Linked DNA regions of Homo sapiens. The protein of the gene in region 2 purifies or fractionates together with the protein of the main gene of each other region. This does not show direct contact. Each region holds a gene or a part of one and is shown on either strand. Other genes may lie near its edges.

Region 1 (3,819 bases), on a different chromosome or scaffold from region 2:
AAATGTCACAAAGTGAGTCCTCAATAGGAGGTTGTTTGCGTGTATACATTTGCCCACTTAAAAAATAGGTGGTAAGAATATGCATGAAGATGAGCTTGAAAAGTCTGTTGGCCCCTGAAAAGTTAAGTCACTGAGAATAAGAGTCAGACTTCAGGAGCACAGTTAGGCAAACATTACTGTGAATTACAGAAAATAGTGTCTCTTTTTTTTTTTTTCAGGCACAGATGTTAAAGATGCCAAGGTGATAAGTGTTTCTACAGGAACAAAATGTATTAATGGTGAATACATGAGTGATCGTGGCCTTGCATTAAATGACTGCCATGCAGAAATAATATCTCGGAGATCCTTGCTCAGATTTCTTTATACACAACTTGAGCTTTACTTAAAGTAAGTTTAGTAAACAAATAAGGACAGGAAGCTCTTTTTAAAAAATATTCCTCTATTAGAAAACATTGCAAAACCTTTCATTGTTTCTGTAATCATGGAAAATCTCTCAAAATCATAACTTTAATTAGTAACAATAAGGCTGCATCCCATTCTTCCACAATGCTCAACACACATATGCACACATACATACAATAACATAACATGGTCATAAATTTCAAGTCTGTGTTTAAGACCATGTGATTTTGTTGTATGCTGTATAAATAGAAGTTCCCAAACTGCCAGGTAAAGATGGTAATTTTTATTCTAGTCACCGTTTCTAGAAAGAGCTAGTCATGTATCCAAACTCCTTTTCTTTACAAAGCCATTTTTTGTATGTGGTCTTTCTGTTCTGAAGTCATAAATTGGAAGAAGGAAAGGTTACTCACATCCTGATGACATATCCATTATTGAGTGACAAGAACTGTATTAATTACCCTAAACATGTAAAATAAATATTCCAGTTCAAACTTATCTTTCCCTTGTGGAAAATACTAGCCTCTGAAAATGATAGACTAAAATTTAACTATATACAGCTTTAAATGTTACTTTTGCAACTTTTTTCCTTTCAGTAACAAAGATGATCAAAAAAGATCCATCTTTCAGAAATCAGAGCGAGGGGGGTTTAGGCTGAAGGAGAATGTCCAGTTTCATCTGTACATCAGCACCTCTCCCTGTGGAGATGCCAGAATCTTCTCACCACATGAGCCAATCCTGGAAGGTATGAGACGAGATTCTTCAACAAGCCAGTTTCTCAAGAAAATGTTAACAGATAAAAACTAACCTGTGTTAATATCCCTTTTCCTTTTTTTCTTTTTATTTTTAGACTTGGATGTGGATCTGATAAGAGTCTCTATAAAAGCATGGATTTTTTTCTTTCCAATTAACTTAATTAGAAAACTTTAATGAATGAAAAATGCTGATTGTAATTAACCAAGTAATTAGAATGGAGTGAGAATATTGGATTAAAATTGTATCAGTATTTAAATTTGGGTAATAAATATCTCTAAATCAGAGGTGTATGTGATCCTCCATATTTCTGAGGAATTCTAATTTGCTAAATGTGTAATTAAAGTATTTATTTGCCTGATATTTCAGAAGCAGATAAACACTAGTGAAAAGTGAAACCACTATTGTGATCATATTTTTTTCCATCCTTCTTTACATTTGAGGTTAGCACTTTTGTTTTTTAGTGTTTTGTATCTACATCCCTTCTCCCAAGCCCTTAGGCATTGTTTATTCCAAATAGAACGTTTTATTACATTACTTTCCTTGTTTATAAAAGCAACAGGCATACTCACTGTGGAAAATTGCTAACTATTTTTAAAATATAAGAACATTAAAATCATCCGTATTCCTGTAACCCAGAAATACTCACTATGGATGTTTTACCATACTTTCCATGGGTTTATTTCTGCATCTGTCTAGATTTATTTTGGAAATTTTAAAAATATAGAGGAAAATAACATGGCAAACACCCAAGTATCCATCACCCAGAATTAGCAAATGTTAGCATTTTGTCCTATTTGCTTCAGTGCATTTTTAATGATAGAAATAAATCATTTCAGTTAAAGTGAAAACCCCATTTCCCCAACTCCCTTGGAGACCACTTTTGTGAATTTTGTTTGTGTTATGTCCTTCCTACTCAATTTCATATAATTTTTTTTTTTTTTTTTTGAGACAGGGTCTCGCTCTTACACCCAGGCTGGAGTGCAGTGGTGCAATCATGGCTCACTGCAGCCTCGACCTCCTGGGCTCTTAAGCGATCCTTCCACCTCAACCTTCCAAGGAGCTGGGACTACAGGCATGTACCACTATACCTGGCTAATTTTTATATTTTTTATAGAGATGGGGTTTCACCATGTTGCCCAGGCTGGTCTTAAACTCCTGGGCTCAAGCGATCCACCTGCCTCAGCCTCCCAAAGTGCTGAGATTACAGGTGTGAGCCACCATACCCAGCCTCTCAGCTTCACATACTTATTTTGTATGTGTATTTTGTATGTATGGCATAAACATATGCATTTATATGCACAGACTGTATTTTAAATTTATAAGCTATTGTTAGATGTGCTTTTCAATAAATCAAATAGATGGTTTACTACCTGTGGGGTTTTAACTCTTTTTCTCTCTTAGAACCAGCAGATAGACACCCAAATCGTAAAGCAAGAGGACAGCTACGGACCAAAATAGAGTCTGGTGAGGGGACGATTCCAGTGCGCTCCAATGCGAGCATCCAAACGTGGGACGGGGTGCTGCAAGGGGAGCGGCTGCTCACCATGTCCTGCAGTGACAAGATTGCACGGTAAGGGGCGGGGGCTCCCTGTGGCCACCTCCCTGCACACAGGATTCATCCATACTGTTTGCCAACCTCCCTTTTCCACAACCATTTGAATTTTGGCCCCATTTCCCACTCAGGTGTTCCACAGTATTCTTTGAAGGACTGAGGTTCTAAACAGGTGCTGCTGGGACCCCCGTGAGGGGCAGCAGCAGGACCTAGACACAGGAGGCTCCACGCTTCTAACATTCCTATCCAAGCGTCTCAGAGTTTACCACTTATTTTTAACGTGGGCTTCTGGGTTAAACTGATGTTTTTAATGGGCTACAGGCCATGACATCTTAAAACTACTGGCTTCTCCTCATTAGTAGTAGATGCAACTTCAGTGGTCACTTTCATCATTCAGTTAACATTTTAGGTAGTTGATATGTGCATTTTAAAAGTAATGCAAACCCTGTCACAGGCATTGTGTTCTAAGCACAGAGAGCATCCCCAGCCATTCTGTGCCTGGGTGTGGGTTAGGCTTAGAGGAGGGCTCTGCAAGCACACTTCTGTAGTCAGCAGGCACCTGGGAGATATTCATCTTTCAGAGGCCTGTATCCAGAGCAGATTATAGAAAACCCATTTCTTCAGATGGTATCAGTTCCAGTAGTTCTTTGTTTTCATTTTTAAACTAATGTTTATTTGGAAAAAAAAAGTAACATAAGCAGATGGCAAAAAGCATACAATGATAAAGTTTAAAACCTCCCTCTTCAGAGCCCTCCTGTGGCACCCACAGTGAGTGGGTTTTGACTGTCCATCCAGAAGCTGTCAAAATTGATGCATACGCATGTGCACGTGCACATCTTTTCATTGTTTGTGTGCCCTTTATGTTGATTTCCTTCAGTGGGTCTTGTCAGGCAACCTCAAGTACAGGGAGCTGGATTAATCACACATTTTGGGCCATTGCCCACAGCCCAGGTGACCACTGTGATGTGTTTATTTATTATTTGTCCTTCCAGTCCACCTCCACACGTGCATATGTCAACTTTGTGTGTGTGTGATGTGGGGGAGGGGGGTGTACTCTTGAAAAATACACAATAGAATTATTTGGAGTATTTGTTGCTAATTTACAGAAATGA
Region 2 (3,819 bases):
GGCCGGAATTGTCCACCTTTAAATTGATTCTTTTTCCTTTCATTGAGACGGAGTCTCACTCTGTCGCCCAGGCTGGAGTGCAGTGGCACGATCTTGGCTCACTTCAACCTCCACCTCCCGGGTTCGAGCGATTCTCCTGCCTCAGCCTCCTGACTGGCTGGGAATACGGGTGCACACCACCATGCCCAGCTAATTTTTGTATTTTTAGTGGAGATGGGGTTTTGCCGTGTTGGCCAGGCTAGTCTCGAACTTCTGACCGCAAGTGATCCGCCCGCCTCGGCCTCCCAAAGTGCTGGGATTACGGGTGTGAGCCACCAGACCTGGCCTAAATGAGCTCATTTGGTGTCATGATGTGAATTTTGCCTTAATAAACTTTTACAAGGAGAGCGCTAAGTCCAAAGCCCTTGTTTTATACAGAGAAGGCCACAGAGGCCCCAAGAGGGTCATGGCTGCCCAAGTGTGATTCTGGGGGTGCTGAGTGCCGATGTCCCCTCCGGCCCCTGCTCCCCCATCCCCATCCTCTTCCCGCAGCCTGCTGAGGGATGCCCAAGAAGTTCCAGGGTGAGAACACCAAGTCGGCAGCGGCCCGGGCACGTAGGGCAGAGGCCAAGGCGGCCGCTGATGCCAAGAAGCAGAAGGAGCTGGAGGATGCCTACTGGAAGGACGACGACAAACACGTCATGAGGAAGGAGCAGCGCAAGGTGCGTGCACTCCGAGTCCCCGCGGCCCGCATGCCTTGTGGCCAAGGCCAGTGGTCATTATGTCAATGTGGGTGAATAGCGAGAGGGCCCTCTGAGCTTTGGTCTGAAAGGCCAGGAGGGACCAGGCGCTGTCGCTCACGCCTGTCATCCCAGTACTTTGGGAGGCCGAGGCAGGCAGATCACCTGGGGTCAGGAGTTCAAGATCAGCCTGGCCAACATGATGAAACCCTGTCTCTACTAAAAATACAAAAATTAACTGCGTGGTGGCGCACACTTACAGTCCCAGCTACTCTGGAGGCTGAAGCAGAATTGCTTCAACTGGGAGGCGCAGGTTGCAGTGAGCCGAGGTCTCCCCGCTGCACTCCAGCATGGGCAACAGAGCGAGATTCCATCTCAAAAAAAAAAAAAAAAAAAAAAGAGGCTGGGCAGAGTGCCTCATACCTGTAATCCCAGCACTTTGGGAGGCCGAGGTAGGCATATCACCTGAGGTCAGGAGCTCAAGACCAGCCTGGCCAAAATGGTGAAACCCTGACTCTACTCAAAATACAAAAATTAGCCAGGCATGGTGGCAGGCTCCTGTAATCCCAGCTACTCGGGAGGCTGAGGCAGGAGAATTGCTTGAACCCAGGAGGCGGAGGTTGCAATGAGCTGAGATTGTGCCGTTGCACTCCAACCTGGGCAACAGAGTGAGACACTGTCTCGGAAAACAAAAAGCAAAATGCCAGGAGGCACTGGAGATGGCAGAGGGGAGGGAGGCAGAGGAAATGGTGTGTGGAAAGGCCCTGGGGTGGCACAGTCTTGCTTGTCTGTGGACAGTGAGGCTGTCATTGCTCTCTGTGGATGTTTCTCTCCTTTGAGTAATGTCAGGGTTGGGCTAGATGGTCATTCTCACCGTGGAGCTACTCTGCCCCTGAGGACGCTTGGCAACACCTGGAGATGTGTTTGGTTGTCATAACTCGGGGAGAGGGGGTGTTGCTGGCATATAGAAGGTGGAGACCAGAGATGCTGACACTCTAGAATGCACAGGACGCCCCCACAGCAAAGAATGAGCCAGCCCCAGATGTCAGCAGTGCTGAGGCTGAGAAACGCTGTGATCAGGCCCCCATTTCCAACCTGTTGACCCAGGTCCACAGGTTCTTCTAGGTGTTTATTTTATTTTTGTTGTTGTTGTTGAGACAGAGTCTCCCTCTGTTGCCCAGGCTGGAGTGCAATGGCGCGATCTCAGTTCACCGCAACCTTTGCCTCCTGGGTTCAAGTGATTCTCCTGCCTCAGCCTCCTGAGTAGCTGGAATTACGGGCATGTGCCACCATGCCCAGCTAATTTTGCATTTTTAGTAGAGATGGGGTTTCTCCAGGTTGGTCAGGCTGGTCTCGAACTCCCAACCTCAGGTGATCCGCCTGCCTTGGCCTCCCAAAATGCTGAGATCACAGTCCTGAGCCAATGTGCCCGGCCCAGGTGTTTATTTTTTAAAAGCCGTCGTTTGGCGTGGTAGCTCATGCCTGTAATCTCAGTACTTTGGGAGGCTGAGGTGAGAGGATTGCTTGAGGCCAGGAGCTCCAGGCCAGCCTGGGCAACATAGCAAGACCCCATCTCCACAAAACATGTACAAATTAGCCATGCATGGTAGTGTGTGCCTGTGGTCCCAGCTACTTGGGAGGCTGAGGTGAGAGGATCACTTGAGCCTGGGAGTTCAGGGCTGCAGTAAGCTATAATCGTGCTACTGTACTCCAGCCTGGGCAACAGAATGAGACTGTGACTCAAGATGAATCAAAAAGCCCAGGGCCAAGCACCATGCTTCATTGGTGTCTGGGTTGTGGTTTAGGGCTGATGCTGACCTGCTTGGCCCAGTAGGTGGCGCCAGTGACCCATGCTAGCCACAGCTCCTGGTTTCCACACCCTGGGTAGCTGAGACACTGGCCCTCTAGGCAACCCCCCAGCTTAGGGGCTGCTATCCTGACAACATGCCCAGTTCTTGGGGGGAATCTGGACATTCCCACCTGTTTTACCCGTCATCTTTTTTTTGTTTTTTTAAAGACGGTCTTGCTCTGTCACCCAGACTGGAGTACAGTGGCAGGATCACAGCTCAATGCAGTCTTGACTTCCCGAACTCAAGCAAGCCTCCTGCCTCAGCCTCCCAAGTAGCTGGGACTATAGGCGTGCACCACCACGCCCAGCTATTGTTTGTATTTTGTGTAGGGGGTGGGGGTCATCTCACTGTGTTGCCCAAGTTGGTCTCAAACTCCTGGGCTCAAACAGTCCTCCCACCTCAGCCTCCCAAAGTGCTGGGATTACAGGCATGAGCCACTGCACCTGGCCTCCCATTGTCTTTCTGTGAAGGGGTAGATCCTGCCTTGTTTTTAGCACACATTCAATGTCCCTGGCTTTCTTCCAGCCCCACCCCTACCCACCCTGCTGCACTGGGTCCATGGAGATATTTATAGTTTGGGGGTTGGGGGATCATCAAAATTTTGACACTATAGGAAAGTTGAAAACTCAAAAGGAAAAACAATGTCTGTCAAAGATGCAGTATCCATCCGGGTGCGGTGGCTCACGCCTGTCATCCCAGGACTTTGGGAGGCCGAGGCAGGCGGATCACCTGAGGTCAGGAGTTCGAGACCATCCTGGCCAACATGGTGAAACCCCATCTCTGCTAAAAATAAAAAAATTAGCTGGGCGTGGTGGCGCGCACCTGTAGTCCCAGCAACTCAGGAGGCTGAGGCACAAGAATCACTTGTACCTGGGAGGTGGAGGTTGCAGTGAGCCGGGATCGCGCCACTGCACTCCAGTCTGGGTGACAAAGCAAGAGTCCATCTCAAAAAAATAATAAAATAAAACAAAAAGATCCAGTATCCAGACAGAATCCAGAGACCTTTCCGCCCATAGTGTCAAGATCATTGGCTTAATCCTCCCTGTGGCCTGCGTCTTGGCCACTGGGGTTGGCCCCATCCTCTGGATGAGGAAATTGAGGCAGAGAAGGCAGAAAGCCCAGATCACGTGGCTATGAGGAAGAGCTGGAGCCAGACTGGCACCTTCTCCTTTGTTAAGAGGCTTTTTTTTTTTGAGGCAGAGTTTCACTCTGTCGCACAGGCTGGAGTGCAGTGGCGCGACCTCGGCTCA

The links.
Region 1: the proteins of CCDC124 (region 2) and ADARB1 purify together in Homo sapiens (affinity purification with western blotting; one study listed by BioGRID). This does not show direct contact.

The regions. Positions count from the first base shown.
Region 1 is NC_000021.9:45,182,367-45,186,185, forward strand, and holds part of ADARB1 (double-stranded RNA-specific editase 1), read left to right. Parts: intron 1-218; coding exon 219-387; intron 388-995; coding exon 996-1,144; intron 1,145-2,107; coding exon of another isoform or gene 2,108-2,227; intron 2,228-2,556; coding exon 2,557-2,725; intron 2,726-3,819. UniProt on the Homo sapiens protein: Catalyzes the hydrolytic deamination of adenosine to inosine in double-stranded RNA (dsRNA) referred to as A-to-I RNA editing.
Region 2 is NC_000019.10:17,935,879-17,939,697, forward strand, and holds part of CCDC124 (coiled-coil domain-containing protein 124), read left to right. Parts: intron 1-531; 5' UTR 532-542; coding exon 543-701; intron 702-3,819. UniProt on the Homo sapiens protein: Ribosome-binding protein involved in ribosome hibernation: associates with translationally inactive ribosomes and stabilizes the nonrotated conformation of the 80S ribosome, thereby promoting ribosome preservation and storage.